Linked DNA regions of Homo sapiens: all the other regions are linked to region 1. Evidence: fine-mapped expression QTL. A gene starts in region 1. Each other region holds a variant in brackets. All regions are shown on one strand. Distances are from middle to middle. Region 1 holds the start of TRIM65 (tripartite motif containing 65). Region 2 overlaps FBF1 (Fas binding factor 1). Region 3 holds the start of UNC13D (unc-13 homolog D).

The links. PIP is the estimated chance that this variant, and not a neighbour inherited with it, causes the effect.
Region 2: its variant is fine-mapped to the expression of TRIM65 in spleen (GTEx, PIP 0.97). The same link has a PIP of 0.9 or more in sun-exposed skin and transverse colon.
Region 3: its variant is fine-mapped to the expression of TRIM65 in ileum (GTEx, PIP above 0.99).

What each region holds. Positions count from the first base shown.
Region 1 is chr17:75,892,783-75,901,621 of GRCh38, reverse strand. TRIM65 (tripartite motif containing 65) reads left to right here and starts at 4,671. Exons shown (of 6, transcript NM_173547.4): 1 at 4,671-5,098; 2 at 8,772-8,839. The coding sequence starts at 4,685. MRPL38 (mitochondrial ribosomal protein L38) reads left to right here. Exons shown (of 9, transcript NM_032478.4): 5 at 349-421; 6 at 595-640; 7 at 1,948-2,106; 8 at 2,328-2,464; 9 at 2,636-2,978. The coding sequence ends at 2,772. RefSeq lists enhancers at 3,537-4,244, 4,245-4,954 and silencers at 4,322-4,801, 4,832-5,401.
Region 2 is chr17:75,918,575-75,928,654 of GRCh38, reverse strand. FBF1 (Fas binding factor 1) reads left to right here. Exons shown (of 30, transcript NM_001319193.2): 8 at 462-579; 9 at 1,123-1,200; 10 at 1,778-1,897; 11 at 2,229-2,367; 12 at 2,492-2,625; 13 at 3,209-3,308; 14 at 5,014-5,469; 15 at 6,609-6,710; 16 at 7,095-7,183; 17 at 7,353-7,411; 18 at 8,226-8,381; 19 at 8,548-8,648; 20 at 8,781-8,987. Among named protein-coding and RNA genes, the nearest start is that of FBF1, 17 kb to the left of the region's middle. RefSeq lists enhancers at 1,753-2,952, 6,349-7,548. The variant G/A (reference allele first, on the strand shown) is at 5,215.
Region 3 is chr17:75,839,253-75,849,332 of GRCh38, reverse strand. It overlaps UNC13D (unc-13 homolog D), which reads left to right and starts at 4,929. Exons shown (of 32, transcript NM_199242.3): 1 at 4,929-5,112; 2 at 5,814-5,849; 3 at 6,067-6,174; 4 at 6,260-6,319; 5 at 6,410-6,476; 6 at 6,720-6,900; 7 at 8,332-8,376; 8 at 8,503-8,571; 9 at 8,757-8,826; 10 at 9,004-9,108; 11 at 9,223-9,315; 12 at 9,391-9,494. The coding sequence starts at 4,996. It overlaps WBP2 (WW domain binding protein 2), which reads left to right. Exons shown (of 8, transcript NM_012478.4): 4 at 671-763; 5 at 1,403-1,537; 6 at 1,724-1,846; 7 at 2,349-2,425; 8 at 2,546-3,634. The coding sequence ends at 2,599. RefSeq lists enhancers at 3,990-4,079, 4,210-4,289, 4,708-5,412 and silencers at 4,520-4,679, 4,690-4,749, 5,600-5,659. The variant G/A (reference allele first, on the strand shown) is at 5,142.

The sequences.
Region 1 (8,839 bases):
TTGTTGTTCTCTGTCTCTTTGATTTCCTGGAAGACGACACCATGACAATTTCAAAGAAAATAGAACAAAATGAAGGAAAAAGAGGCTCTGTCTTAGCACATTCCTGTGACCAGCCTGCTGTCTGTGGTGTGCCCTCCTGGCCCGGCCTTGGCACATGTTCGTTTTTGTGGTTGTTGCCTGGACAGGCAACTCTGCAGGGCTGCTTCTCTACGCATCCCTTTGCCTGCCTGCCTGTGCCAGGGGTTGTCAAGGGCTTTTGGGTCAGAGTGGGCACCCCTTTCTCCAAGGCTCCCTGCAACAGCTGGCCTGTCCCTGGTGGGGCTGACAGCTTCCTTCTCACCCTGCCAGGCTGCCCAAGCGCCAGAGGTGACCTATGAGGCAGAAGAGGGCTCCTTGTGGACGTTGCTACTCACTAGCTTGGGTGGGTGTCTGGGGCTCACCAGGCCTCCTGCCCCGCTCACCTCCTATGAGCCAGGGCCCTGGGGGGCTGGGGGAGGGGCCAGGTGGAGATCTCCAGCGCTGGCTCCTAACAAGGGAGGGGGTGGCAGGGCCGTGGTCGGCTGGGCCGTGGTCAGCAGGTGTGTTTTTGTGCAGATGGGCACCTGCTGGAGCCAGATGCTGAGTACCTCCACTGGCTGCTGTGAGTACTGGAGTACTGGGGGTAGGGGGTGCTGCCCAGGCGGGAAGAGGAGCTGGGAGCCTGGACTGAGCTGCTCCTGAGTTTCATGGACTACCCATGGGACCTTGAATTCACCTGCCACCTCTGCCTCCTGAGGGTGTTAGGGGCCCTGGGATCCACGTGTCTACTTGAAGACAGCTACAGGAGACAAAGTTTGCAGTAGGCCTCGGTCAGTCCCCACAAGCCTCCTCATCTTTTCTTTTCTTTTTTTTTTTTTTTTTTGAGACAGGGTCTCACTCTGTCCCCCAGGCTGGAGTACAGTGGTGCAATCATGGCTAATTGCAGCCGCTAACTCCTGGGCTCAGGTGCTCTTCCCACCTCAGTCTCCTGAGTAGCTGGGACTACAGGTGCAAACCACTACACCCAGCTAATTTTTGTATTTTTTTATAGAGACAGGGTTTCACCATGTTGCCCAGGCTGGTCTCCTGAGCTCAAGCGATCTGCCCGCCTCCGCCTCCCAAAGTGCTAGGATTATAAGCGTGAGCCACCATGCCTGGGCCCTTCGTCTCTAAACTCATTTCTTCACCTGTAAAACTGGGATAATGGCACCACATGCCTTACTCAGCGTGAGGTGGACTGTGACAGTCACGTGGGAGAAGGAGCGGGAGAGGCCTAGCAGCTGTGGCGTCCCCCAGGTGCTCCTTGAACCACTGGGCGCTCCTTCCCTGGGCCCAGACTGGGCGGCCTTCCATCTTGGTAGCTTTTGGCTCTGAACACCAGGCCAGGGGGCAGAGGTCAGGCCAGTGACCCCAACTTTGAGCCTTCTGGTTAACTGGGGACAGTGACTGGGAGGCTGGTTTCCGTCATTTTTATTCAACTGTTACCAGCCTATGCGGCAGGACCCTCTGGGGATTTGTGCCTGAGGCGTTGGCCGCCCCTGTGCCAGGCTGGGCACACACTCCCTGACGAGGTCCTGGAGACTTCAGGACGCAGAGGGAAAAGCAGCCAAAAGTGGCCTGGCTTTCTAGCCTCAGTGACTGTGGCGGACCCACCGGCTCCCGGGGCCTGGAAGCGGCTGCATGGCCTTGCTGTCAAGCTGATGCTCTCTGGAGCCCTGTCCCCCACTCGGAGCTCCTCCAGCCCGCTTCCCGTATTTGCAGCATGTCCCGGCGTTCACAGAGCTTGGCTGCCTCCTCTGTCCCAGGAGAGAGATGCTTAGAGCTGTCCTCCCAGGGAGTCATGTCAGCCTCTAGGGTGTGCATGGAGCTGAGGGGACACTCCTGCTGCCTCCCTGGAGTGGTAATTAACCGGGACTTTCCTCCTCCCAGAACCAACATCCCGGGTAACCGGGTGGCTGAAGGACAGGTGACGTGTCCCTACCTCCCCCCCTTCCCTGCCCGAGGCTCCGGCATCCACCGTCTTGCCTTCCTGCTCTTCAAGCAGGACCAGCCGATTGACTTCTCTGAGGACGCACGCCCCTCACCCTGGTAATCTACACCACCCACACATAACCCGGCCTCAGGCCAGCTCCCCTGGAACGGTCACTCTTGCTCAGTTCTCTCTTGACCTCAGCCTTGAGACTGGCAGAAGAGCAGGATAGGGTGCTAGCAGACTCCCAGGGGCCTCTCAGGGTTACCTGTTGGGGTGGCGGGGTGAGGGGCTCTGGTGCCCCACTCCACACTCTCATACGCTCTCTATCTTCTCATAGCTATCAGCTGGCCCAGCGGACCTTCCGCACTTTTGATTTCTACAAGAAACACCAAGAAACCATGACTCCAGCCGGCTTGTCCTTCTTCCAGTGCCGCTGGGATGACTCCGTCACCTACATCTTCCACCAGCTTCTGGGTAAGGGCCATGGGGCTGGGGCACTGGGTGGGCCTGAGCTCCCAGGCCTCGCCTGCCCTGCCAGGGAGAAGCTTTGTTAGGGGAAGGCTGCGGCAGGTCCCTGGTGGGCAGGCCTCAGCCTGAGGGGGCGCAGGCCAGCAGACCACCCCGTACCCCTCACTCTTCTTGCAGACATGCGGGAGCCGGTGTTTGAGTTCGTGCGGCCGCCCCCTTACCACCCCAAGCAGAAGCGCTTCCCCCACCGGCAGCCCCTGCGCTACCTGGACCGGTACAGGGACAGTCATGAGCCCACCTATGGCATCTACTAAGGAGCCAGAGTGTGCGCATTTCAGAGCATGGGATTGATCGGCAGCAAGAGTAAAGACACAGCTCCAGAGGCCCACACTGTGGGGTCTGGGCCCTGCCTTAGGCAGCCCCCCTCTTTGGCCCCCTCCCGTCAGGCCCAGGGCTTGGAGTGAAAGTGACTCTCAGGTGGTGGGGTGGGGAATGTGAATAAACATGATTTCTTGCCGGGCTTGGTGGCTCACACCTGTAATTCCAACACTGGGAGGCTGAGAAGGGAGGGTCGCTTGAGCCCAGGAGTTCAAGACCAGCTGGCAATATAATGAGACCCTGCCTGTATTTTTTAAAAAAAGGGATTTCTGCCATAGCTGGCCTGGGTCGGTGCTCCAGGGCCAGAGGACCCCGATGGAGCTTCATGGGTGGGAAACGGGCTGCCTCCCACCCCACTAAGTGCGTCCTCACCTCCGTCTTCTGAGGGTGTCAGGGGCCCTGGGATCCGAAGCAAAAGCAGGCAGTGGGCCAAAAACAGGTGTGGCCCAGGGAAGGGAGACATCCCAATCCAGCAGGTTCCTGAAACCCAGCTCCCCGAAAAAGTGGAGCAGAGCAGCTGGGCTCAGGAAGGAGCATTTATTGAGCACTGGCTCTGTGCCTCAGGGGGGTCCCACCGGCCCCTGGAGAGAGAGTGCCTGCCCGAGCACTGACCCTCTGCACAGGCTCCAGCCCCCACCCCATGCTTGGGAGGAGAAGCCACATTAGGTAGGCAACAGCGTGTCTCAAGAGACCTGCTCAGGGTCAGAAAACCCATGGAGTCTTGCGGCTGGATGGTTAGGTGTTTTGTTTCTCCCTTACCAAAAGCAGAAGTCTGGCTAACTAGTAGGTGGAGGGTAGATCCGTGCACTTTGTCCAGAAAGAAACTTCGTCTATGGCCGCACAGAGGACGCAGTGCTTGCTGCAGCAGTGAGAGCTCGTGCCGCCTCAACATCAGCCCAGCTTGGTTAGAAAGGCCGTACTCTCCTGGGGTTCCCCCTGGCCTGATACACACTGTCAGGTAGGTGGGCGCTAGGCCCCAGACCCGCCTTGCCTGCTCAGCTTCAGGGGAAATGCTGGAGTGCCTGTAAATACTGAGGCTGCAGATCAGCTTGGACCCCAGGCAAGGAACTCTCCCCAGCGGAGGGCAGCAGGAAGAGGGGATGCTGATTGCAGATGAAAGCTGGTTTGTGTATTCATTCAGGGCCATTTGAAAAATACCAGTTAACTGGTCCCTGTCTCTTGGTGACCAGACATTTCCATCTCGCTGTTTACTTTAAAAGAACCAAAATTACGTGTAGCCCAGAGAAGGGAGACACCCCAGTCTGGCAAGTGTCCGAAACCCAGCTCCAGGAAAAAGTGCAGCAGTGCTCGGGTCTGCAGGGAGCCCGCCAGCCCGTTTCATCGCCAAGCCCCGGGGGATTGTTGGGGGTGGGGGTCTATGCTGTTAGGCGACTGGCAGATGAGTCCAGAAGAGGTTCCGCGCGGCCCGTGGTCAGAAGCCCGGAGTCCTGGCGGGGTTTTCGAGCCTCTGGTCTCCAGGACCTGGGCTGAAGGCCCAGGGGGGTGGGATGGACCCGCCAGGCTGGGACCCTAGAGAGCCGAACTCAGCTCTCAGCCGGGGTGGCGTGGACCCTAACGGAGGGAGGGGCGCAAGGCGGGAACGCGGAACCTTCGAGCGGGCCAGGCCGAGGTGGGCAGGGGTGGCCTAGGCCCCTGCGGCGGTCGCTCGTCGAGGGTGTCAGAGAAGGGCCTGCCGCCCCCCTCCGCCTTCCCGGGCGCGGATCTCGCCCCGCCCCGCCCGGATCTCGCCCCGCCCCGCGTTAGCCACGCCCAGGCGCCCTCAGCGCGCGAGGCCCGCGGTCCCTTTAAGACGCCCGGGGCCCGCCTGGCTCTCGCCGCCGCCGGGCCATGGCCGCGCAGCTGCTGGAGGAGAAGCTGACCTGCGCCATCTGCCTGGGGCTCTACCAGGACCCAGTGACGCTGCCCTGCGGCCACAACTTCTGCGGGGCCTGCATCCGGGACTGGTGGGACCGCTGCGGAAAGGCGTGCCCCGAGTGCCGGGAGCCCTTTCCCGACGGCGCCGAGCTGCGCCGCAACGTGGCCCTCAGCGGCGTGCTGGAGGTGGTGCGCGCCGGGCCCGCCCGGGATCCCGGCCCCGATCCCGGCCCCGGCCCCGACCCTGCCGCGCGCTGCCCCCGCCACGGGCGGCCGCTGGAGCTCTTCTGCCGGACCGAGGGCCGCTGTGTGTGCAGCGTGTGCACCGTGCGCGAGTGTCGCCTCCACGAGCGGGCGCTGCTGGATGCCGAGCGCCTCAAGCGCGAGGTGACGCATCCGCCGGGAGCGGGAGGGGTCCGGACCCGCCGCAGCCTGGCCACCGCCGGGTGACTCCTGCGGGCCGCGCCCTGCTCTCTCGGGCACCCGGCGGGGGCGGGGAGCCTCATCTGTAAGGGGCTTCTCCCAACCTGGGAGCTGATTATAAAAGTCGTGGGTCTGCCAGGCGCAGTGGCTCACGACTGTAATCCCAGCACTTTGGGAGGCCGAGGCGGGCGGATCACGAGGTCAGGAGATCGAGACCATCCTGGCTAACACGGTGAAACCCGGTCTCTACTAAAAATACAAAAAGTTAGCCGGGCGTGGTGGCGGGCGCCTGTAGTCCCATCTACTCGGGAGGCTGAGGCAGGAGAATGGCGTGAACCCGGGAAGTGGAGCTTGCAGTAAGCCGAGATCGTGCCACTGCACTCCAGTCTGGGCGACAGAGCGAGACTCCGTCTCAGAAAATAAACAAACAAAAAATCGTGGGTCTGTGCATCAGACTGGGATATGCAGCCCGGCCAGTGACACAGGGTGGGTCTCAGAAGCTGCTCGGTGCCCTCTGGATGAACAAAGCCTGGGCGTGAGGCAGCAGCTCCCTGCTCCGTGCCCAAGCGCTAGAGAACCGTCGTGTGTCTCCTGCGCTCCGAGAGCCTCCTTTCATTCGCTGTGCGGGGTTGTGGAGGGCGAGGGGGCTATGGGGGCTGTTGGTAAATGGATCAGACGAGCTCCCTGCCCTTAAGAGACTTAGAATCCACTTAAGAAGTCAGTGTTCCAGTAAGGCGTGAATGTATTATTACAAAATGCAGTGAGGAAAGCACATGGCATGTGATAGAGGGGTTGGGGTGACCCTGCTAAACGGGCCAGGAGGAGGAAGGGGAGGCCGCCTTCAGGCTGGCATGTGAGGATTGAGGAAGCGCAAGCCAGGAGAAAGACCTGGGGAAGAGCATTCTAGGCAGAGGAATCAGCCTGGTCCCGTCTCTGGGATGGGAAAGAACTGGGCACGCGGGGTCCCTAGTGGCAGATTTGTGCCACTGAGATCTGTGGGCCAGGCCCTGGGGGTCAGCAGGGGCAGGATCGGGCAGGGTCCTGGGGGAGTCTGGCTCTTACTGTAGGGTCATGGGGGCCATTATAGGCTTGGAAGCAGGTTGGCACATGATCAGATTTGGGCTTCATGGAGACTGATCACCTGGCTGGGGGCTGAAGGGGGCAGGATGTAAGACCCGAATCGGGTAGGAGTGCAGGGAGGCAAAGAACCAGCTGGGGATCAGGGAAGGGAGACCAAGATGGAGGAGGAGATGAGAAACGCTGAGGGGAAGTGGTACCTTGTGGAGGCGAAAGCAGGCCAGAGGGGACACGGGGGACAGCAGAGAGGGCGGCAAGGGAGACACCTGGGTTTCTGTCTTGAGCACGCAGGTGGCTGGGGTGCTATGTCCTGAGAGGCGTAGGTGGAGGGCAGAGTTTGGCCTTGGACATATAGAGGTCACAGTGGCCAGTGGGACAAACCAGGGGACGGGCCTGTGGCACCTGGGACCCTGGCCCCAGCCCTGCCGCGCGCTGACCCCGCCCCGGGCAGCTGCTGGAGCTCTTCTGCCAGACCAAGGGCTGTTGTGTTTGCAGCTTGTGCACCATGAGTGAGGGTCACCTCCTCAAGTGGGTGCTGCCGCCAGGAGCAGGAGGGGGCCGGACCCCCCGCAGCCTGGCCACCACCGGGTGCAGTGGCTCACGCCTGTAATCCCAGCACTTTGGGAGGCGGAGGCCGGTGGATCACGAGGTCAGGAGATTGAGACCATCCTGGCTAACATGGTGAAACCCTGTCTCTACTAAAAATACAAAAAATTAGCCAGGCCTGGTGGCGGGCGCCTGTAGTCCCAGCTCCTCTGGTGGCTGAGGCTGGAGAATGGCGTGAACCCGGGAGGCGGAGCTTGCTGTGAGCTCCAAAGCTCAGGAGCGGGGAGCTGGAAGTCGAGAGCTGGGAATCATTAGCGCTAGGAGGAAGAGAAGGTTCCAAGCTGGAGCTCCCAGGGAGATGGGGAAGGTCGGGGGAATGGCAGCCCTGTGTGGCACCTGGAGACAGGGGTGCCAGGAAGAGAACGGGCAGGATGCCCATGCTGATCAGAGGCTCAGTACGAGGACAGAAATGACCTTCAGCATCGGTACTGTGGAGGTGGTCCGTGCCCTTGACAAAACCCATTTCAGCAGCGAAGACAGGATGTGGAATCATTCGGGGACAGAGGAGGCCTGGGGCTAAGGCGTGGATGGAGGATGGCGCAGGGACGCTGGATGGGACAGGAAGGGAAGGGGTGGCCAGGAGGCCTGATGGGCAGGGAGGGATGGGAGAGTGCACGGCTGGGGGTCGGTGAGGTGGGAGGACTGAGACAGAGGTGGCTGGAACAGGAGAGGGCACGAAGGCAGTGGTCAGAGAAGGAAGAATCGATGCCTAGAATGGAGATTTTAGAGCTGGTGACAGGGCCAGGGTGAGTTCACAGGAGCGGCTGAGATGAGGTGAAGGAAAAGGGCTCCAGAGTGTTGCGGGACATTCCTTGTAGCTGCTGAAGCCGCCGAGGAGGATGAGACGAGATGTACTGCTCATGGGCGGGTGCAGAAGACTGAGCTAGGCACGGAAGTTTGAGTTGGAGGCCGGTAGATGAGGGCCATGTGGAGGAAGGGAGCGACAGGGGCAGCCAGTAGCACCAGGGGAGCCAGGATTTTGCAAGAGAGAGGGAAAGGGACATGGGGGTGCCTGTCCCTGGGGGAGGGTTGGGTGCCCTGGGAGAGCCTGCCCTCCGGCCTCCTGTGTTCCTGTGTGAAATGCTGGAGGCTGGGGGCCCGGAGGAGCTCTGGGCTTAGGAAGATCTGAGGACTTTGACCAAATTATCAACTTCTCTGAGCCCGTTTCCTCCTCTGTGATGTGGGGATAGTAATGGTCCCCATCTCAGTGCATTGCGGGAGGAGCAGAAACAAGGTGGTGAAGCTTTTGACCAGGTGCTGGGAATGGAGCCCCTGGGACCTGCGTGGTTTGTCCTGCTCTCATGAGAGCACGGTGTTTTGATTCCCAAGGGACTCAGGGAGCGCAACCGAATAGGGGTCCCTTCCTCCCCTCTCAGTCTCAAAACTAGGGCCAGGGACTGGCCGGATCCCCAGAAGAATCTAGTTTATCCAGCAAGTAACTGCCCACTTGTCAGACAGCTTTGGTGCTTTGGGAGGTCCCTGCAGTCAGCTTCTCAAGCCCCAGGGCCTCCTGGGCCACTGACCCCTCTGCAGTGAGACAGGGACCAACGGCTTTAGTGTTTGGGGTCCTCCCTGCGAGGCCTCCTGAGCCAGCATTATCGCTTTCCTGTATTGATGGGTGGGGGGTTAGGCCCAGAGAGGACAGGTGCTTGGCCTCAGCTTGCTCAGCATGCAAGAGGTAGAAATGGGAATGGAAGTTGGGTCCTGAGCCCAAGGCTTCCGCTCTGCTCAGGCACCACCCTGCTGCAGATTAGGAAGGACTTTGTCTGGACCCCCCCGGGGCACGGCCCCAACTCTCCCTGGGTTAGACCGAGGCCGGTGCTCTGGAGGCTGGCCTGGGGTGGCGTGGGGAGGGGCTGCCTGGTGTCTGCAGGCATGGTTGGTTGTCTGAGAAAGGACATCACAGCCAATCCTGGCCTTCTCTTGTTGCTTGTCCCGTGGGCCCGCACCACAGGCCCAGCTGAGAGCCAGCCTGGAGGTTACCCAGCAGCAGGCCACCCAGGCCGAAGGCCAGCTACTAGA
Region 2 (10,080 bases), 26 kb before region 1:
TGTATTTTTTGTAGAGACAGGGTTTCATCATGTTGGCCAGGATGGTCTCGATTTCTTGACCTGGTGATCCACCTGCCTCGGCCCAAAGTGCTGGGATTCTAGGCATGAGCCACCGCGCCCGGCCAATATCCTGTCTAAAAAAAGAAAAAAAAGAAAGCTTTTTTCCCGAGACCAGCCACCTAGGATCCCTGGGCATAACCCACAAGTCCTCTGACTCAATTTTTGGTGCTGACTTTGAGTCTCTCATCCCAGAACCATGAGCTGGACTCCATTCCACCTCCCCCTGCTTACCTTTAGTTCCATTTTCTTTCTTCACTCACTGTTTTTCTCAACAGTTTTCTCATTTTCCTTTGTTTTCTCACAATTCTACACCTGGGGTGCCAACAGCCCATCTCTCTCAGGTGGAAGTCCTCAGCCCCTTATCAGACATAGTCCTCTGCCCTCCCTCCCTGGTTTTCTAGGACCTGGACGGCATGGATGCTGATATCTTAGGTCTGAAGAAATCTAATTCAGCCCCTAGCAAAAAAGCTGCAAAGGACCCTGGGAAAGGAGAGCTGCCCAACCACCCCAAGCCTGCAGGTGGGTCAGTAGCCAGTGAGAAAGGTGCATGGGAGACGGCTCCTCGCATCTGCTAGGGAGACTTTGAGGACGTGGAAGATGCTAGTAGGAAGCGTTCATGTCCTTGGGTTTTCTCTGCACAGGATGGAGAGGCCAAGGAGCATTTGTGCGTGTGTGTGTTTGAGTGTGTGTGGTGGGGTAAGGGGACAGCTTGAGTTTCCTCCCTTCCTCGAGCTGTTCCAGGCCCTCTGGGTCCAACATGGGCAGCTCCTGGAGAAGCTGTGTGAGTTAAAATGGAGAACTCTATGGCAGCCTGTGCCTCTCCTGAACCCATGTCTCTGGAGTGACTCATGATGAGGAAGCAGAGGTAGCTCCTACCTCGTTTCCCTGCCAGAAGCCCATGGCAGAACTGGAGACTCCTCCCTTGGCTGTGCCCATGGCCATGAGCCCCCAGCTTCCCAGGAAGAAGTGCACCCCATCCCAGGGGCCCCAGTCCATGATATGGGAGGAGGACTTTGGCCAGGAGAGACTCAGGCCCATGACCTTGTCTTCTGCTTCCTGCAGGGGGTGCCATTCCCACCAAGAAGTCACTTCCGTCTCCCAGCAGCTCTGGGCATCAGAACAGGAGGTTTTCCTCTGAAGGTACCATAGGCTCCTGTCATGCCTCTGGGACACTCTGGTTTGGGAGTGGAGCAGCCTAGGCATGCTTGCTGGCCCGAGGCCCAGCTGCTGCCTATGTCACATGGGTGCCACTGGTTTACTTCCTCGTGAATTCATGTCGGGACCAGCTATATTGTATTGGCTGAGATATTAGGGAACTTATTTGCAAAGACCTTAAAGCCAGGCATCAAACTGAAGATCTTCCCAAGTATAGGAAGGAGCCCCTTTCCCGTCATGAATGTGTGGATATTTTACTTCTCTTCTGATGCTTGAGGGACATTTCCAGAAGGCCATGCAGCCTGCAGAGTCAGAGGCCCCACCGGCAAGCCTGAGGCAGGCCCCGTAGGTCCAGGGCCGCCCTCCAACTCCCTCTCTCCTTGCCCGGCCTGTCTTTTTGTGGAGTCCCCGTTGCCCCAGGCCCCACCCTCCAGATGCCAGGGGGCTTGTTTATGTACTGGAGCAGCTAGAAGCCTTGACTCGAGCGCTGCTCCCCAGTTCAGGCTTGCTTTTCCTCAACTAAGTGCTGCAGTCTGACCTGTGCTTTCCCTTCTGCTGTGAGACTTGGAAGACCCATTGAGAGGACTTCTCTCCTATGATGAAGGAGGAATCACCAAGCAGCCGCCTGTGACACAGAGTAAAACAGCTTCTGACAAGAGCCCCAGCACAGTGAGAGATCAAGGTAGGGTGGAGTGGGCTCATTTCCCATCCTGGAGGAAGAGTTTATTGGCAACAAGCTAACCAGCCTTTCTGGTGCAGAACCAGAGGCCTCTCCCAGGTGGGGACCAGAGGTCTAAGGTCCAGTACAAAGAGATCATCAGCCTTTAGGAATAGGAAGGTAGGACGTGTGAGTCTGGGAGTAGGCTGGAGGAATTGGGTCCCGTGGACAGACCAGGCAGGTCTAAAGCCTGTCGTCCTACCCAAAGGTGCAGAGAAACCACCCCCAACCCCATTCAGATATCACAGTTGAGGGCAAGAAGGCTGCAGGCATTGGGCCTTGTTTTGTCTTTCAGGTCCCTCTATTCCTCTAACTCCTGGGGACACCCCCATCCGAAAAAAAGAAGAATTGTTGTTTGATGATGGGGATGACATCATGGCCACCTTGGGGTTTGGAGACAGCCCCAAAGCAGAGAAGAGGCAGATAGGAGACCAGTAAGGATCCCTGAGTAGGCCAGGCTGCTGCCTCAGGTTCAGGGAAAAGCTGGTGGACGGGTACTGTGGGATTCCCGAGAGCCCCTCATACCTACACGTTCCTGCCGTGTGTCCCGTCCTGCAGGGAAGGGCCTCGCCCTGCTCGCTCCACGCTGGATGAGCTGCTGGGTCGAGGCATGGCCACCAAACTCCTGGCCCGCCCGGGCACCGGGGAGCACAGGGAGTTCAAGCTAGACAAGAAGTACCAGAGGCCACAGGGTAAGGAGGCTTGCGGGGGCCGCAACAGGACGGGAGGGAGGCCTCTAGATCAGGCTTTCATCACAACCTATAATGAGAAATCAGCCTCACATCCTGATACACACATGTGATTATACACGTCTATAGCTGAGACAAAATAATACTTACCGTGAAATAATACTTACCGTGACCACTGTTCGTGCTCAGTTGTCTATGATTGAGATGCTGTTTGATTTGGAAACACACTGGCTGTGACACATTAAGCTGGTTTCTCAGCCCTCTCATGGGTAGCAGCTCGCATTTGAAAAGCACTGCTCTGGACATGTTTCTCAAAGCATCAGCCCACAAGCTGTCTGCTGAGAATCATTCTTGTGACACATGCCGCTCGCTGGACCTGACCTCGAGGGATCCTGGGGCAGGGTCTGGCTACTGCAAGGCCACTGCATCTTCCTGGCCAGTGCCTGAGGTGCTCCCTTCACAGCAGCTTCCCTCTGCTTGTCTTACACAACAAGCTACCAAATTCAGCTTTTGTTAGAATTTTGCAGCCGCAAATGAGCTTGGTTCCCCTACTCCAGATCACGGTCACAGGCTCCTTAATTCACAGACAGTGAAGATATGTGGGGTGACGAGGACTTCACCTTTGGAGCCTATCAGCCCACTGTGGTCTCCTCTGAGGGCCGGCAGTCCCGCCGGCAGTCTGTCAGGTAAGTGGGGCCTGCAGGAGGCTTGGCCTCTTGAGACAGGTCGGCCACTGGGAAGACAGGCCCCTGCAGCTGTCCCCTGTCCCACCCGAGAGTCTCATGTGGGAGGCCACAGGGTACAAGGCCCTCAGCTCTGCAGGTGCTGAAGGAAGCGGGAGATGGCCTGGTCCCGCCAGCCCAGACAGAGTGGAGGAGATGGCCCCAGTGGGAACCCCCATCCCAGACGCTGCTCAGGTTCGCCAGTGCCCCACCCAGCCTCAGAAGGAAAGGGGCAGGTGGGCCTGCCTCCACCTAAAGCCCCTGAAATCATAAAAGGCTGTGATGTCGCTCGGTCTCCCCAAGGAACATACTTCCTGATGGGTAGCAAGACCACTGGCATCTGCGGTGGCTTCTTAGACCCCGCTTCCCAGGAACTCTGCTGTCGAACCTGCCGTGACAATTCTGACAGCGTGATCCTCTCAGTTTACAAAAAAAAAAATTAAATCAGTGATAGGATTTTCTGAGTTTGGAGTTCTTTTGCCAGTATATATTTTAAACTTTGTATTTTGAAGTAATTTCAAACTTCAAAAGTCGGCTGGGTATGGTGGCTCATGCCTGTAATCTCAGCAGTTTGGGAGACCAAGGCAGGTGGATCACCTGAGGTCAGGAGTTCAAGACCAGCCTGGCCAACATGGTGAAACCCCGTCTCTGCTGAAAATACAAAAATTAGCTGGGCGTGGTGGTGGGCGCCTGTGATTCCAGCTACTCGGGAGGCTGAGGCAGGAGAATAGCTTGAATCCTAGAGGCGGAAGTTGTGGTGAGCTGAGATTGCACCACTCACTGCACTCCAGCCTGGGCAATAGAGCGAGACTCCGTCTCAAAAAAAAACTTCAGAAGTTGTAAGAACAGCACCAGGAGCCCCTCTCATCCTTTCCCAGGTTCAGCAGTTGTTCCCATTTGCCAGGTTGGCTTCTTCATCCTCTTTCTATCTGAATAGCTCTAAGCACATCGGCATTACTTCCCATACCCAGTACGTTCTTAACCCTGGGAACCTGCTGCCACTGGTCAGTGACAGATGAAGGCCACGGCCGAACAAATGAAGTAACTGTTGTTGGAAAACCTGGAAACCACTTGATCCAACTTATTATTATTTTTTTTAGACAGAGTCTCACTCTGTCGCCCAGGCTGGAGTGCAGTGGCATGATCTCGGCTTACCACAACCTCTGCCTCCCGGGTTCAAGCAATTCTCATGCCTCAGCCTCCCAAGTAGCTGGGATTACAGGCGCCCACCACCACACCTGACTAATTTTTTTGTGTTTTTAGTAGAGATGGGGTTTCACATGTTGGCCAGGCTGGTCTTGAACTCCTGGCCTTAAGCGATCTGCCCACCCTGGCCTCCCAAAGATCTGGGATTACAGACATGAGCCACCGTGCTCGGCCTGATTTTTCTTTAGACCTGTGTGCCCATGGCTGTCATTTGATCCTGTTCCTGTTCTCTGTGGGTAGAACTGTCCCTGGTTCATGTGATGGAAGTCAAGGTCTCTGTACTTCGTGGTGTTCTACAGACAGCACGTGGCCTGCCACCTGAGCCGGTCCAGGAGCCACTGCTCACTGGGCCTCAGCTGACTGTGCAGGGTCCCTGGGCATCGTGACGCCCAGCTGCAGGCTGCTAGGGGGCCACTGGGACTGGCTGTTTCCCCTGCCTGACACCCTCCTTTCTGTCTTGAAGTAGGTTCTTCGCAGACAGTGGCGCAGACCCCAAGGGAGAACCAGGCTCCAAACAGAGCCCTCCAATGGCTTCCAGCCCCATCCAGCCCAGGAAGGGAGGAGCTGACTGGTTGGGCCTCAAGGACGAGGACTTGGACCTGTTCCCTGCCTCACCCACCAGAGAGGCCCATCGGGAAAGTTCAGTGCCTGTCACGCCCTCAGT[G/A]CCTCCTCCTGCGAGCCAGCACTCCACGCCAGCTGGGCTGCCCCCCTCCAGGGCAAAGCCACCAACTGAAGGTGCAGGGTCCCCTGCCAAAGCCAGCCAGGCTTCCAAGCTGCGAGCCTCCAAGGAGGAGAAAGAGGACTGGCTGAGCCATGCCCTGTCTCGGAAGAAGTCCCAAGGCCTGGCCAGAGAGCAGCATGCTGGGACCTCTGAGGGCCTGCATTTGGCGGGGACAGCGGGCCATCCCCCTTCTGGCAGGTACTGACTTAGGCTGCTGTGGCTAGTAGGGGGAGGACTGGCTGGGGACTTGAGGAGCCCCTTTGCCCCTTCACCTGTTGCAGCCTCAGTCAGCAGTTGGGGAACAAGGCAGGGCGCCGTGGCCACAGAGGCCGCTTCTTGGCTTTGCTACTCTGCCTTTTAGGCACTGCAGAGAGAGCCTCTGGCTCCCAGGCTTGCCCCAGGGACATACCCAAGAAGGAGGGCTGTTGACATTCATGCCCTGACCGCCATGGGGACAGGTGCTAACTTGATCGAGGAGAAGACAGAGGGTCCCTGAGGTGGCAGACACACCGCTGCCCTGTCACAGCGCCCTCAGGCTGGAAGCCCCGGCATCCAAACAGCCGGTGCTTCTGCCGACTCCACTGAAGCGAGTATGGCGTGTGTGAGCTGAGATGTCCCTGTGCTCTTTGAGAGTGTTAGAGGAGACATAGTGGCCGAGAGGCGCCTCTTGGAGAAGCCCTTATCCGTGGGGCAGGATAGCGAGTGACCTCTGAAGGCAGGAAGGCACAAGGGGCCAGCAGGCTGGGGGAGTCCAGAGGAAGTGGTGAGATGTGCTGTGGCCAGAGCCCAGGGGAGTGAACTGGGCAATTTGTGACAGCCCAGGGACATCACCCTGTCCTGGGGTTGATGACAGGAGGGCAGTTTTGACTTTGACCTGAGGCCGAGGGGAAAGCTCAGGCCAAAACAGAAAAGAGCCTGTCTCTTCACTGACCCGTGAGCCGAGAAAGAGGTGGAAATAATGGGAAAGGGAGCCAGCCAGATTTGGTAGACTGAGCAGAATCCTAATCTAGAGCTGAGCCAAGTTAAGTGGACTGGAACAGGGCTCTGAACTTGAACTTGACTCCAGTGTCTATAACATTTCCGTTGTCACTGCTTGGACAGTGTCCATTCACTGCACCACTGTGGACATTGAGGCAGGAAGGGGGTACTGGAAGGGAAGAGATGCCCAGAAATCCCAGGAGCTCAGACGTGGGAGGAGAATGCCCCAAGACGGGATGGTGGAAGCAGGAGGAAGGGGGGCCACGAGCTTCACGTGTGAAGCCCGTCCTGGGCCCTGTCTTCATCCAGCCTGACCTGGGCCTTCTGTCACCTTCACCTTGAACGCTGCCTTTCCTCAGCCAACCTCTCACCAGCACACAAGGGCTTGAGCACGCAGCTGCTGGAGGGAGTTCTGGAACAACTGCACGAGAAAGACCGTGTGTCAGGCCTGGTGTCTCGGGGTAGGCCTGGGCTGCGGGCTGAGTGGGAATGAGAGCATGGTGGGCAGCACAGGCCTCTGTCCTGAGAGAGGGACACAGAGGCTGTTCACCCTGCCCCTGCCCCGTCCCCGTGTCCCACACAGAGGCTGCCCACCCTGCTCCGTCCCTGTGCCCTACACAGAGGCTGCCCACCCTGCCCCATCCCCGTGTCCCACCTAGAGGCTGCCCACCCTGCCCCGTCCCCGTGTCCCAGCAGAGGCTGCCCACCCTGCCCCATCCCCGTGTCCCACGTAGAGGCTGCCCACCCTGCCCCGTCCCCATGTCCCACCTAGAGGCTGCCCACCCTGCCCCGTCCCCGTGTCCCACACAGAGGCTGCTCACCATGCCCCATCCCTGTGTCCTCAGGTCCCCTGTGACTCAGAACCATGCCGCCTCAGCACTCCCTACAGGTTCCCCAAAGAGGGGAACAGCCCCTGGAGACCTCTCAGCCACTGGTTTGTTTTTTGTTTGCTGCTTCATTTGGGAGTTTAACCCTGGGTGAGGAAGAGGTGCTTTGAGCTTCCTTTGGGGTCCCTGGGACATGAGTTACACCAGCCCCTCCTGGACACTCGCAGGCCCAGTGCCCTGGGCCTCCTGTTCATTTCTCTGTTGTTGATGTTTCAGAGCCTGCCACGTGTTTCCCGAGCACCCAGAAACCCACAGAGCCTTCCGTGCCCGTCCAGGTAGGGGTGTGGGCAGACAGGTCTAGCTCAGGGCCTAGGGAGCAATTCTCCATGCCCAGGGGCAATACCCACAGTTTGACCTGACGACCTGCCAGGAAAAATGTGTCAAACATACCAAATGTGACGTCAGCCAGCTCCCCGGGCACCCCCCACTAGAACTTGCCTGAATTTCTAGCCTCGCTGCTCCTGGGCAGAGCTGGGTGTTAATTTGCCTACATCAGTGGGGAGTTTAAGGAGGCAGCCAGGCCGGGGAGCTGGGATGCTGCAGTCAGAAAGCAGGGCCGCAGGGTCCTGTTCTGTCAAGAAAGCCTCCTCCACCCTTGCCATCCTCCCACCACACCTCTGCCTCTGTTTCCCATGTGTGGCAGTCACCTGTGACACCTGGGCCTGGGAGGTGTGCCCCCCCCCCCCCCAGGAGTGTGTCCCTGGGAGATGGTGGGTAGGGGACAGCTCGTGGGAACCAGATTAGTGTCAACATGTGGGCTTCAGGCCTGACAGGAAAAGCCAGCATCAGCTTTTGTCATAGCGAAGACTCTGCTGGGGTTCAGCCATTTGTCTGGGAAGCCGGAGACCATGCTGGGGAGGAAGCTGTTCCGGAGGGTGGAGGGAGACATGCTCCTGACCAGATCTGCAAGGGGAGGTACACTGGGGACTGCTTAGCCGCAGTGACTGTTACTTTCCAAGGCCTTGGCCCCATCTGCAGCCACAGATCAGATGCAGGGAGGTCCAGTGAGCAGTGGGCCAGGAGGTAGCTGATCTCAGCTGGGCCCCTGTCCCCTCCCTAACTAGAAACACCTCTCTTCCTCTCCTCCAGCCCCTGCTCCCAGAGTCCCTGGCCCGGAGCCTGCTGCCGAGCACAGAATACCAGAAGCAGCTCCTGGCAGCACAGGTGCAACTTCAGTGCAGCCCCGCTGAGCTCCAGGCCGAGCTGCTGCATAGCCAGGCCCGGCTGGCAGAGCTGGAGGCCCAGGTGAGGGGCAGCGGGGCCGTTGGTGCTGGTGGCAGGGTTGCGACAGGAGGGGACACTGAGAGTGGCTGGAAGCTTCCCCAGGAGGGAGGAAGGGCTGTTGGCACAGGGCAGCGTGGAGTACAGCCACCTCCCCTCCCTGGTTGCTGGCCCTCCTGCTGTCTCCCAGGTGCGGAAGCTGGAGCTAGAACGGGCCCAGCATGAGCTGCTGCTGGGGAGTCTGCAGCAGCAGCACCAGGCAGACCTGGAGCTCATCGAGAGTGCACACAGGTACCCTGGCGCTGGCCCCAGCTCTGCCTTGGATCTCACACTGACCCCAAAGGCCACCCAGTGTGCCTGGAGAGGCCTTTAGGCGGCAGCCCTCTGCCTTCCTTGCGCCATGGCTGGGTGTTCTGTTGGCAGAAGCCGCATCAAGGTGCTAGAAACATCGTACCAGCAACGGGAGGAGCGGCTCCGGAGAGAGAACGAAGAGCTGTCAGCTCGGTATCTGTCGCAGTGCCAGGAGGCCGAACAGGCCCGTGCTGAGCTTACGGCCCAGCACCAGCGGCGCTTGGCGGCCATAGCGCAGGAGAAGGACCAGGAAATGGAGCGGCTCCGGGAGCTGCAGCGGTGAGGCCCAGGGACAGGCAGCTGGGGAGCAGGCTTGCAAGGAGTAGCCGGAAGAGAGCCATCCCCACGAGACCCTTCGCTGTGGCTCAGCAGCCTTTGGACAGGGGTTGGGTCCTTCCCTCCCAGTCCAGTGAGTGAGGACTGAGGGCTGAGCACACTGACCCATCACACCCATGGGTGGGGGTGCCACCTGCTCTTACAGAGGCAGGAGGGGGTACCCACAGGCTGTTCAGGCATGGCATGGCAGCAGCAAGCCGCCTAGGGTCTAACTAAGCACAGGGTCATCCACTCGCCTGCTCATGCAGTAGAGGCTAGAAACAAGATCCACCTGGGAAAGGCTTGCGCTGTTGTGCCTGCCATGTTTATAGGGTTGCCTTTCTAGAAGAGAAGGAAACTAAGAAAAGTTACCTAAGGGAGTCAGAGGTCGATGAAGGCAGAGGCAGCCTTTTAAGACTGCTCAGGGCCGGGTGCAGTGGCTCACACCTGTAATCCCAGCACTTTGGGAGGCCGAGGTGGGAGGATCACTTGAGGCCAGGAGTTTGAGACCAGTCTGGGCAACACAGTGAGACCTCATCTCTAAAAACAATTTTTAAATAAGCTGGCATGACAGCTACTCCTGTAGTTCCAGCTACTTGGGAAACTGAGGCAGGAGGATACCTTCAGCCCAAGAGATCAGGGCTGCAATGAGCTATGATGCCACTGCACTCCAGCCTGGACCACAGAACAAAACCCTGTCTCTAAAAACATTTAAAAAACAAAACACTTGGGAGGCCAAGGCAGGAGGATTGCTTGAGGCTAGGAGTTCAAGACCAGCCTGGGCAACATAGTGAGACCTCATCTCTAGGAAAAAAAAAAAAAAAAAGAAAGACTGCTTGGGGCCGGGCGTGGTGGCTCACACCTGTAATCCCAGTGCTTTGGGAGGCCAAGGTGGGTAGATTGCCTGAGCTCAGAAGTTCGAGACCAGCCTGGGCAACACGGTGGAAACCCCATCTCTACTAAAATATAAAAAATTAGGCGTGGTGAGCGCCTATAGTCCCAGCCACTCGGGAGGCTGAGGCAGGAGAATTGCTTGAACCCAGGAGGCAGAGGTTGC
Region 3 (10,080 bases), 53 kb after region 1:
CATACAAATTTTAGACTCAGGAAGGAGCTGCATCAGGTTCTTGAGAGGGGCCTTTTCATGAGAGCCAGGAAGAGGCAGCTGCCTCTGGGAAGCCAGAGTCACCCTGCTTTGGGGCTGGCTTTTTGGCAGGCCCCAGAGACCTCTGCATTGAACTTGCCTTCCCCTTGACACCCAGCCAGGCCCGCCCTTGCTATTGAGACACTCTTGGTCCCCCTTTGGGCAGAAGCCAGGCTAGAGGGGCCGGAGTCTGTCCTTGGGCCCCCTTAGGACGAGAGGTCTGCTCTGAATTTTAAGGTCGGCTGTTGCTGAGTGGGCTTGTTCCTGTGAAGCTGCCGAGTGCTTGACTGGGGGCGGAGAGAAACCTTGATGTGGCCTTGGCACCCGTGTACATATTGGGCCAAGGGTGGGAGGACAGGCTTGTTCCAGGAAGGAGAGGCCATTGTTCCAAAGGGGGAAGCGAGTACAGCAGGGCCAGGCCAGGCTGCAGTGCTGGCTCCTATGCAGGCAGCAGGCTGGAAACCATGGCACCAGGAAGTCCCCATCACAGTGCAGGCCCAGCCCCCGCAGGCCTCCCGGGCGTTGGATGAAGTCCTGGAGAGGAAAACAGCCATCTCTTTGGGCATAAGTTTTCTTTTCCTGTGCTGTTTATTCACTGTCCTTCCCCTTTCAGGTGGCTGGGAAGGCTCTGCTTCCTACAAGTTGACTTTCACGGCAGGGGGCGCCATTGAGTTCGGACAGCGGATGCTCCAGGTGGCATCTCAAGGTATCCAGGCTCCGAAGATTAGGGGCTAAAGACACACTAAACATGTAGGGGTTTGGTATGAGTTTGCTTCCTTTTCGTTTTGCTTTTTCAAGAACTCAAGAGGTAAGTGTTTGGGCACCAGGCTGACCAGGCCTAGGAGTTGGGAAGGAAAGCTGTCATTGGCATCAGCTCTGTCCTGTACCTCAGAGACTGCGTTTCCCTGCCTGGGGCAGGTGGATGACGTTTTGACAAAGCTGTTTGGACTCAAGGACACTTTACTATGGCCTCATAAAACAAACACTAAACCAACCATTCGACTGCGGTTCCGCAGCCATTGAAAATGACCGAGGGATGGGCCAGCAGACATCCTCCGCCAGCTCACTCCTACCCCAGCCCTGAGCCTCCCTCCCGGCCTCTGTCCACCCTCCAGCCTTGCCCTTGACCTCCCTTGCCTTCCCCTGGCTCTGACCTCTCCCGTCCTCTCTCATCCCTGACCAAGGTGGCCCCCCGAGTATGGGTGGAGGGTGGAGTGGGATGGACAGAGGATGTCTGCGGGGCACATTCCTGAGACCCAGTAGCTCCCATCTGCAGGCAGCGGGGCTGCCCTCTCCCCGCCCCAAGGCAGGCCACGCTCATTTCTCTTTCCCCTTGTACTCGTAGCCTCCAGAGGTGAAGTCCCCAGTGGAGCCTATGGCTACTCTTACATGCCCAGCGGGGCCTATGTCTATCCCCCGCCAGTCGCCAATGGAATGTACCCCTGCCCTCCTGGCTACCCCTATCCACCGCCCCCACCTGGTGAGTGTGTCCTTTGCTGCCCCCACTCCCCTCATGAGCCCACCTACCCAGGCTCCCCCCAGGCCAGGGAGACTTTATTCCTTGAGCTGCTTCAGGACCAACGAAGGAGCTGGAGAGGCCCCCCTCACCCGGGAGGGGGCCGCAGCCGGGTGCTCACCATGTCCTTGTTACTCTCTCACCGAGCAGAGTTCTATCCAGGACCCCCCATGATGGACGGGGCCATGGGATACGTGCAGCCCCCACCACCGCCCTACCCTGGGCCCATGGAACCTCCGGTCAGCGGCCCCGATGTCCCCTCCACTCCTGCAGGTGAGGGCCCTTGGGTGCTGGCAGCCCTTCGGGACCAGCCCTCTCCTCCCCGATGTCGCACAGAGAGCCTCAGAATGGCCAGAGACTGCTGAGAGCCGCAGATGATGGATGACCCCTGGACTACCCCAGGGGCCCAGCAGGGCTGTGGCCTGGTGGAGCGGAGCTAGATTCTGGCCCCACCCCCATCCCTTAGCTATCCATGTGCCCTGGGCGGGGAAGGTCACCCTGTGTGCCTCTCGATCCTCTCATCTACACTCAGCTGGTCGGTCACAGTGGCACCTGGGGCATTGGCTCAAGGATTAGATGAGGTGAGACATGCGATGGGCCTGGAAAGGACCGTGCCAGCGCGTGGCATGTGCTCAGGAAACCTCACCTGCTGCTCTCATTGGTGGAACTGGACCCCCAGCACCAGCTGCCCCGAGCCATGGGGGCCCGGGGTCTCTTAGCTGAGCTCAGGGGGAGGAGAACTTGTCACCGACACCAGGTGTGTTTGCTCTCACAGCCGAAGCCAAGGCCGCAGAAGCAGCCGCCAGCGCCTATTACAACCCAGGCAATCCTCACAACGTCTACATGCCCACGGTGAGAGGGCTTGGCAGTGCCGGTGCAGCCCCACAGCCGCAGATGCTGGGAGCCGCAGGGGGATGACCGCACCATGTTTTAAACCTTCTAATGCAAGTCTCTCCTTTCTCCCTTCTTTAGAGCCAGCCGCCGCCACCTCCCTACTACCCACCGGAAGATAAGAAGACCCAGTAGGCCCTCCTGCCTCCCTGCCTCCCACCCTCATCTCTCTACCCTACCCCTCCCATCGGGGCTGTGCTGGGGCTTGGGGAGGGGAGGGGGCGCCTTGTTCTCCCTCCAGGTCTGATCATAAACAATTACCAGGAACTAGCATTGTGGGACATTAGGGCCCCCGGCCTCGGGAGAGGTGCCGCCCAGCTTCCCATGCCAGCCCGGAGCCCACAGTGCTGCCCAGCGTACCTCCCTCACCGTCTGGGGCTCTTCTGGGAGCACGGAGCATCCCCTGTTCCTGTTTCACTCTCAGCTTCTCCCCTCGAAGGGACTCTCTGGCCACCTCCTCCACCGCAGTCCAGCTCCCTCAGTCTGGCACCCACTGCTACACTCAGCCTCATGAGCCACTTCAGACCAGCCAGGTGTCTTCCCGGGCCCTGCCAGACCCTGCTCACATTCCCTCTGCTGGTCTGTGCTGGTCTCAGAAGGCCACCGCGCCCGCATTCCACTCAGCCAGGGTCCAGCTGCAGCCCCCGCCACCCTTCCTTCCCTTCCCTGTCCTGGGTCATGTTGTTGCCACCCTGTGTGACTTTTGAAGCTGTAAAATGAGCTTCCAGGGCTTGGGTGGCGTCGGGGCAGGGCCGCCGAGGCTGGGAGGAAGCCCTTCTGCCTTTTGCTGGTGTTTCTGGAATTTGCTTTCCCTCACCTCTCACTTCCTTCTAGAAGGAGCTTCCTGACTGGAACCAGAGAATGCATGTCTGTCCACTTGGTGGCTGCTGGGTGGGGCCGGGAACAAGGGCCCCTGACCCTGTGTGCTGGCCGGGACCTGCCACCAGCCCCCCAGCCTGCTTCTTCCCCTTAAGCTTTGTGCCCCTGGATGCGCTAACATTCACTCTTGTTTGTCCCTGGACTGGCCATGAAGTGAGGAGATGGTTATTTAAAGAGAATTCCCTATTTATTTGACAAAAAATCCAGTTAATATATTAATGTGAAATAAACCCTGTTTGCACCTCGATTTGTTTGCTGAAAATGTGAAATAGTAAAAATGAAATAACTGGACCCTTTCTGGCTCTGCGTGTGGTGACCCGGGGGTCTCTTCCGGAAGGAGAGCCGTCTGGCCGCTGAGGGCCCTGGAGACTTCTGGGACGGTTCCCTCCCATGGGAGGATCCCCATTCTCACGGCCCAGCCAGCCTGTCTGGTCCCCAAGACAGCTCTGGCCTCTGGAGCTGGTTCTTAACGGTTGTCGCTCAGCAGCTGTGTCCCTCCCCCACTGAGTCCCCAGGGCCTGGCTGGGACAGAGGTGGATGTGGCCCAGAGTTGGCCTTGAAGGGAGGAGTTGGGGCTGCCACCTTGTCCCCTGCTGGCTCCTCGAGGAATGGCAGCCCTGGCCTAAGTCCTGGTTGCTGGAGGGAGGAGGCCGAGTCAGCCCTGGAGCACGTCAGGACCTGTGACAGGGACACTGAGGTAGCCAAGCCGGCTTGCCACCACCCACGTCACGTGCCCTGCTGTGAACTTGAAGGGACAGGAGGGTGGGAAATGGCCAAAGGCCGTGACCAGGCCCACACGCCCGCAAGTCCCCCAGCCCAGCACTGGGCACAGGGTGGGCAGGCCACAGAGCTCTAGGAAAGCCCCATGCTGAGGCGCATTTTCCTGTCCCCCGGGAGCCAAGTCTGTCCTCAGGAGAGATCGGGCAGCAGCCCCTCTGCCTCCTCCTCCTGGCCAGCCTGGCCCAGAGCTCTCTGGGACTTGGCTAAGCCCCCTTCAAGGGTGTCTGAAGGGAGCACTGTCCTGACTGCCAAGGTGGGGGCAGGGGCACAGGGCTGTCCCTGCCCAGCACAGCTTGGCCCCGTCATCTCCAAGGAATGTCACCTGTGGGGCCAGGCAGGCTGAGCAACTGGCTGTCCTCCAGGGAGACGCCTCTTGGGAGCCCCCACCCTGGGCGCCACCACACCCCACCCCACCCCGCCCCGCCCCACGTCTGGACGCACTCGAGGAAGTGGGGTGAGAACCCCCCCGGGCCCAGGTCAGCTTCTCTCAGGGTTCAGCCCAGCCTGGGCACAGCACATGGATGGGGCAGGATGCTGCCCGCCTGTTCTGGGCCCCCCCGCCCCCTGCTGAGAGCGTTGTCCCCTTCCCAGGGCCTCTGTAGGAGGGTGGGGCGGGGCCAGGCCTGCCCACGGGGTCCACCTTCTGCTCCAGCCAGAGGAGGGTCCTGTAGGGATCCCAGCTGGGGAAGGTGCAGGGGGCCTGGGAGACTGCCTCTCCGAAGCGGTGAAACCCTCACCCTTCCGTCCCTCCCAGCCACCCTCCCTAAAACTTCCCCTGACAGAGGGTGGCAGCCCCAGGCTCTTTGCATAATCCTGTGGCTTCGCTGTCTTCACCCAGCACCAGCGGACAGGGAAGGGCAGAGAAGGCCACCATGGCGACACTCCTCTCCCATCCGCAGCAGCGCCCTCCCTTCTTGCGCCAGGCCATCAAGATAAGGCGCCGCAGAGTCAGAGATCTACAGGATCCCCCGCCCCAAATGGCCCCGGAGGTAGGAGTGACCTCACTGGGGAGAGAGCT[G/A]GCCTTGGGGAGCACTGTGGTCTCGGGTACGGGTGCCCTGCTGTCTGGCCCCACCTCTCGAAGGCTGGGACTGGGGACCAGCGACCCTCCCCTGCCTACTCCACCCTGGGGAGAGCCCCCTGGGCCAGCAGAGCAGGGGCTGCCAGATGGACTCTGGGCCACTGTGGGCCTCAGGCCCTGTGGTCTGAGGCTCTCAGAACCCCTCCCTCCCGGTTGGCCTGACCCCATCCCCTACTCCTCCAGCTTCAGAAGAGCCGACTCCATTAGGTGGGGGTGTCCCTGCTGTGGGGTGAGCTGTTCGGGGAGCAGCAGACCCCCAGGCCGACGTGGCACCCCCCTCACCTCCGCTGCCGAGCCTCACTTCCGCTGCTGGGTGAGGAGCAGCCGCCACTGATAAGCAGAGCTGTTTCCTCTGGGGAAGGGAGGGAGGTGGGGTGCGGGTGCGGAGGGCTCGCGCTGCTGGGCACCCATGGACCTCAGCCACGGCGGGCCCAGGGACGGACCTCCAGGAGGCCTGCTGGGGGAACAGGTGCGGGGCATCACTGGGGCTGGAGGCCGGGGTGCTGGGGCCCCCATACCCTTGGCCTGGATCAGGCCTCAGAGGAGCCATTCCTGTCCATCTGAGCCTGCTCTGGGCCTCCCGGGACACTGCCTTTCCACCTTGCTCTGCAGATCCAGCCTCCATCCCACCACTTCTCCCCCGAGCAGGTAAGAGTCAGAGTGCTGGGGTGCAGAGAGGTGGGGAGGGCGGCTGTGTGTCCTCCTGCCGGCCGACGCTGATGGCAGCAAGCAACTTGCGGTGGGGAGGGGACTCCTGGGTCTCAACTCCCTCCGCTGCACAAGCCGCCCTTGTCCTGCCCATGGCGAGAGGTGTTGGTGCCAGGGGTGGCTGGTGGGGTCCCCAAGGTGACCCCGTGTGTCTTAGCGGGCCCTGCTCTACGAGGACGCACTCTACACTGTCTTGCACCGCCTGGGTCATCCTGAGCCCAACCATGTGACGGAGGCCTCTGAGCTGCTGCGATACCTGCAGGAGGTGAGCCCGGCTCCCACCCCACCCCCCTTCCTGCAGCTGCCCTGTCTGGTGCCCCCAGCCACCCACCCGCCTGCCTCCCCACCAGGCCTTCCACGTGGAGCCCGAGGAGCACCAGCAGACACTGCAGCGGGTCAGGGAGCTTGAGGTAACCTGGGGCCAGGGTCCCCCTGGGCAAGGAGGGGCCTGGGAAGCCCAGCCCCCTCAGGGACTCAGGCCATCCCTCCTGTCCCTCCAGAAGCCAATATTTTGTCTGAAGGCAACAGTGAAACAGGCCAAGGGCATTCTGGGCAAAGATGTCAGTGGTGAGCATGGGGTGGGGTCCCCAAGGGGCTTCTTCCTGGCTCCTTCCTCTCCCATCACAGCCTGGCCCAGGACTCTTGGCGGGAGCACCCACTTCCAAGAAGCCCTGTAGCGCTGGCCCCCCATGCTGCTGGTCCCCTTCCCTCTCCCCCGGAGGAGGCTCAGCCCCGGGCGGGGGTGATGAGGGCCTCTCCCAGGGACCCAGCCGACTCCCTGGCTGCCTCGTCTTCCCCACTCCTCCACAGGGTTCAGCGACCCCTACTGCCTGCTGGGCATTGAGCAGGGGGTAGGTGTGCCAGGGGGCAGCCCCGGGTCCCGGCATCGGCAGAAGGCTGTGGTGAGGCACACCATCCCCGAGGAGGAGACCCACCGCACGCAGGTCATCACCCAGACACTCAACCCCGTCTGGGACGAGACCTTCATCCTGTACGTGGCCGTGCTCCAGCCCCCACTCTATCCAGGTCTTTCCTGGGTAGCAGGGTCTGCCCCAGACAATGAGATGAGTAGGTCGTCCTGGCTCAGGGGAGGGGGTTTGGCCCTGGGCAAAGACTAGAGGAGAAGCCCATCTCCAGGCACGTTAGGTGGACAGTAGGTCAGATGGGACAGAACAAGATCAATGCCACACGTGCTGATGGGGCAAGGAGGGTCAGGCCCTTGTGGGTGAGTCTGGGGGTGCCTGAAGCTGTACCTGAAAGGAGGCAGGGATGGGTGCAGTGGTTCCCACCTGTAATCCCAGCACTTTGGGAGGCCAGGAGACTGAGACCAGCCTGGCCAACATGGCAAAACCCCATCTCTACTAAAAATACAAAAAAGGCCGGGCGTGGTGGCTCACGCCTATAATCCCAGCATTTTGGGAGGCTGAGGAGGGCAGATCATGAGGTCAGGAGATTGAGACCATCCTGGCTAACACGGTGAAACCCCGTCTCTACTAAAATACAAAAAATTAGCCGGGCGTGGTGGCAGGCGCCTGTAGTCCCAGCTACTCGGAAGGCTGAGGCAGGGGAATCGCTTGAACCTGGGAGGCGGAGGTTGCAGTGAGCCGAGATAGCACCACTGCACTCCAGCCTGGTGACAGAGCGACACTCTGTCTCAAAAAAAAAAAAAAAAATTAGTGGGGGCCAGGCGCAGGGACTCATGCCTGTAATCCCAGCACTTTTGGGAGGCCGAGGCAGGTGGATCACCTGAGGTCAGGAGTTTGAGACCAGCCTGGCCAACACAATGAAGGCCCACCTCTCCTAAAAGTACAAAAATTAGCCGGGCGTGGAGGTGCATGCCTGTAATCCCAGCTACTTAAGAGGCTGAGGCAGGAGAATCACTTGAACCCGGGAGGCGGAGGTTGCAGTGAGCCGAGATCACGCCACTGCACTCCAGCCTGGGTGACAGAGTGAGACTCTGTCTCAAAAAAAAAAAAAAAAAGGCTGGGCGCGGTGGCTCACGCTTGTAATCCCAGCACTTTGGGAGGCCTAGGCGGGCGGATCACGAGGTCAGAAGCTCAAGACCAGTGTGGCCAACACAGTGAAACCCCGTCTCTACTAAAAATACAAAAATTAGCCAGGTGTGGTGGCGGGCACCTGTAATCCCAGCTACTTGGAAGGCTGAGGCAGGAAAATTGCTTGAACCCAGGAGGCAGAGGTTGCAGTGAGTTAGATCCTGCCACTGCACTCCTCCAGCCTGGGGGACAGAACTAGACTCCATCTCAAAAAAAAAAAAAAAAAAAAAAAAAGGGATGCGGCTGGGAGGAGGGAAGTTTGGCAGGGATAGGCTACAACTCCATGGCTCTGGGCTGTGGTCACTTACTGCTTCGTCTGGGGGCATCCACCCTCCAGGGCCCTCAACCACGCCCTTTTCTCCATACAGGGAGTTTGAGGACATCACCAATGCGAGCTTTCATCTGGACATGTGGTGAGTGACCTGGCCTGCCCCTAGGGATGGGAAGGGAAGGGATCTGGGGTGAGAGAGGCGGAACCTCCTCCTGGAAGAGGTCGTAGGCACTCTCTCTGCTTCCTTCTCAAACCTCTGTCCTGCCAGGGACCTGGACACTGTGGAGTCTGTCCGACAGAAGCTTGGGGAGCTCACGGATCTGCATGGGCTTCGCAGGTTCGTGTTGCAGGGCTCACAGGGAAGGGGTTGGGGCTCCTTTTGCCCTCCATCCCCCAACATGCACACTGGATGCTGGGGTGCAGGCTCCTTTGGGGTCCAGGTGGCTGCGGCCGGGGGTGGATTCCAGCCTAATCCCTTCCGACCCTTGCTGCGTCCCCCTTATGGGACCCTGCCTGACGCAGGATCTTTAAAGAGGCCCGGAAGGACAAAGGCCAGGACGACTTTCTGGGGAACGTGGTTCTGAGGCTGCAGGTGAGGAGGATGAGGAAAGGGGCCCAGGAGCGAGGCAGAGGGAGGGGGTTGGGAGGGGTTCTGGGGAGAGGCTCTGTGTCCTCACAAAGCTGAGCCTGGGGTCCACCTCCTGTCGCCTCCGCTGCCCCGACTCTATGAGGTTCTGACGCTCACGGGCTGGGCATCCCCGCCTGTCAGGACCTGCGCTGCCGAGAGGACCAGTGGTACCCCCTGGAACCCCGCACTGAGACCTACCCAGACCGAGGCCAGTGCCACCTCCAGTTCCAACTCATCCATAAGCGGGTAGGTCGGGTACTGGGCCAGTGGCCATGCCCAGCTCTTGCGGCGGTCTGCTGGGTTGCGGGGCTGGCTGCACCCAGTGTGAGGCCCTGTCTGCTCACAGAGGCCTCATTGCAGAGAGCCACTTCGGCCAGCCGCTCGCAGCCGAGCTACACCGTGCACCTCCACCTCCTGCAGCAGCTTGTGTCCCACGAGGTCACCCAGCACGAGGTATTGCCCTCCTGGGGCTGGGCGCAGCCGGGGCTGCCCTTCAGGTCCTGACACTCCTCCACCTGCTCCCCTCAGGCGGGAAGCACCTCCTGGGACGGGTCGCTGAGTCCCCAGGCTGCCACCGTCCTCTTTCTGCACGCCACACAGAAGGACCTATCCGACTTCCACCAGTCCATGGCGTGAGTACACAGCCCTGGGCAGAACCCCTGAGCCACCAGCCCCCCACGCCCCCTGCCCTCCTCCAAGCCGGTAGCCCAAAGTGTAATTCTCAGCAGAGTTCCCTTTGGCCCAAAATGTGTGTTTTAAGTTTTGAATCAGTTGCCAATTTTAAAAAGTCTAGAGATTCGGCTGATGCGGTGGCTCACTCCTGTAATCCCAGGACTTTGGGAGGCTGAGGCAGGAGGATCACTTGAGCCCAGGATTTCAAGGCTGCAGTGAGCTATGATCACACCAACACTCCTGCCCGGATCACAGAGTGAGACCTCATTTCCAAAAAATATTAGAAAAAGCTATCTGGAGATTTGACATACCATCCAGATCTCCAGCTTCTCATGAAACACAAGTGCTGGAACTGCAGGGTCATCATTTTGCTGCTTTTTTTTTTTTTTTTTGAAACGGAGTTTCACCCTTGTTGCCCAGGCTGGAGTGGAATGGTGCAATCTTGACTCACTGCATGCAACCTCTGCCTTCCAGGTTCAAGTGATTCTCCTGCCTCAGCCTCCCGAGTAGCTGGGATTACAGGCATGCGCCACCACGCCCAGCTAA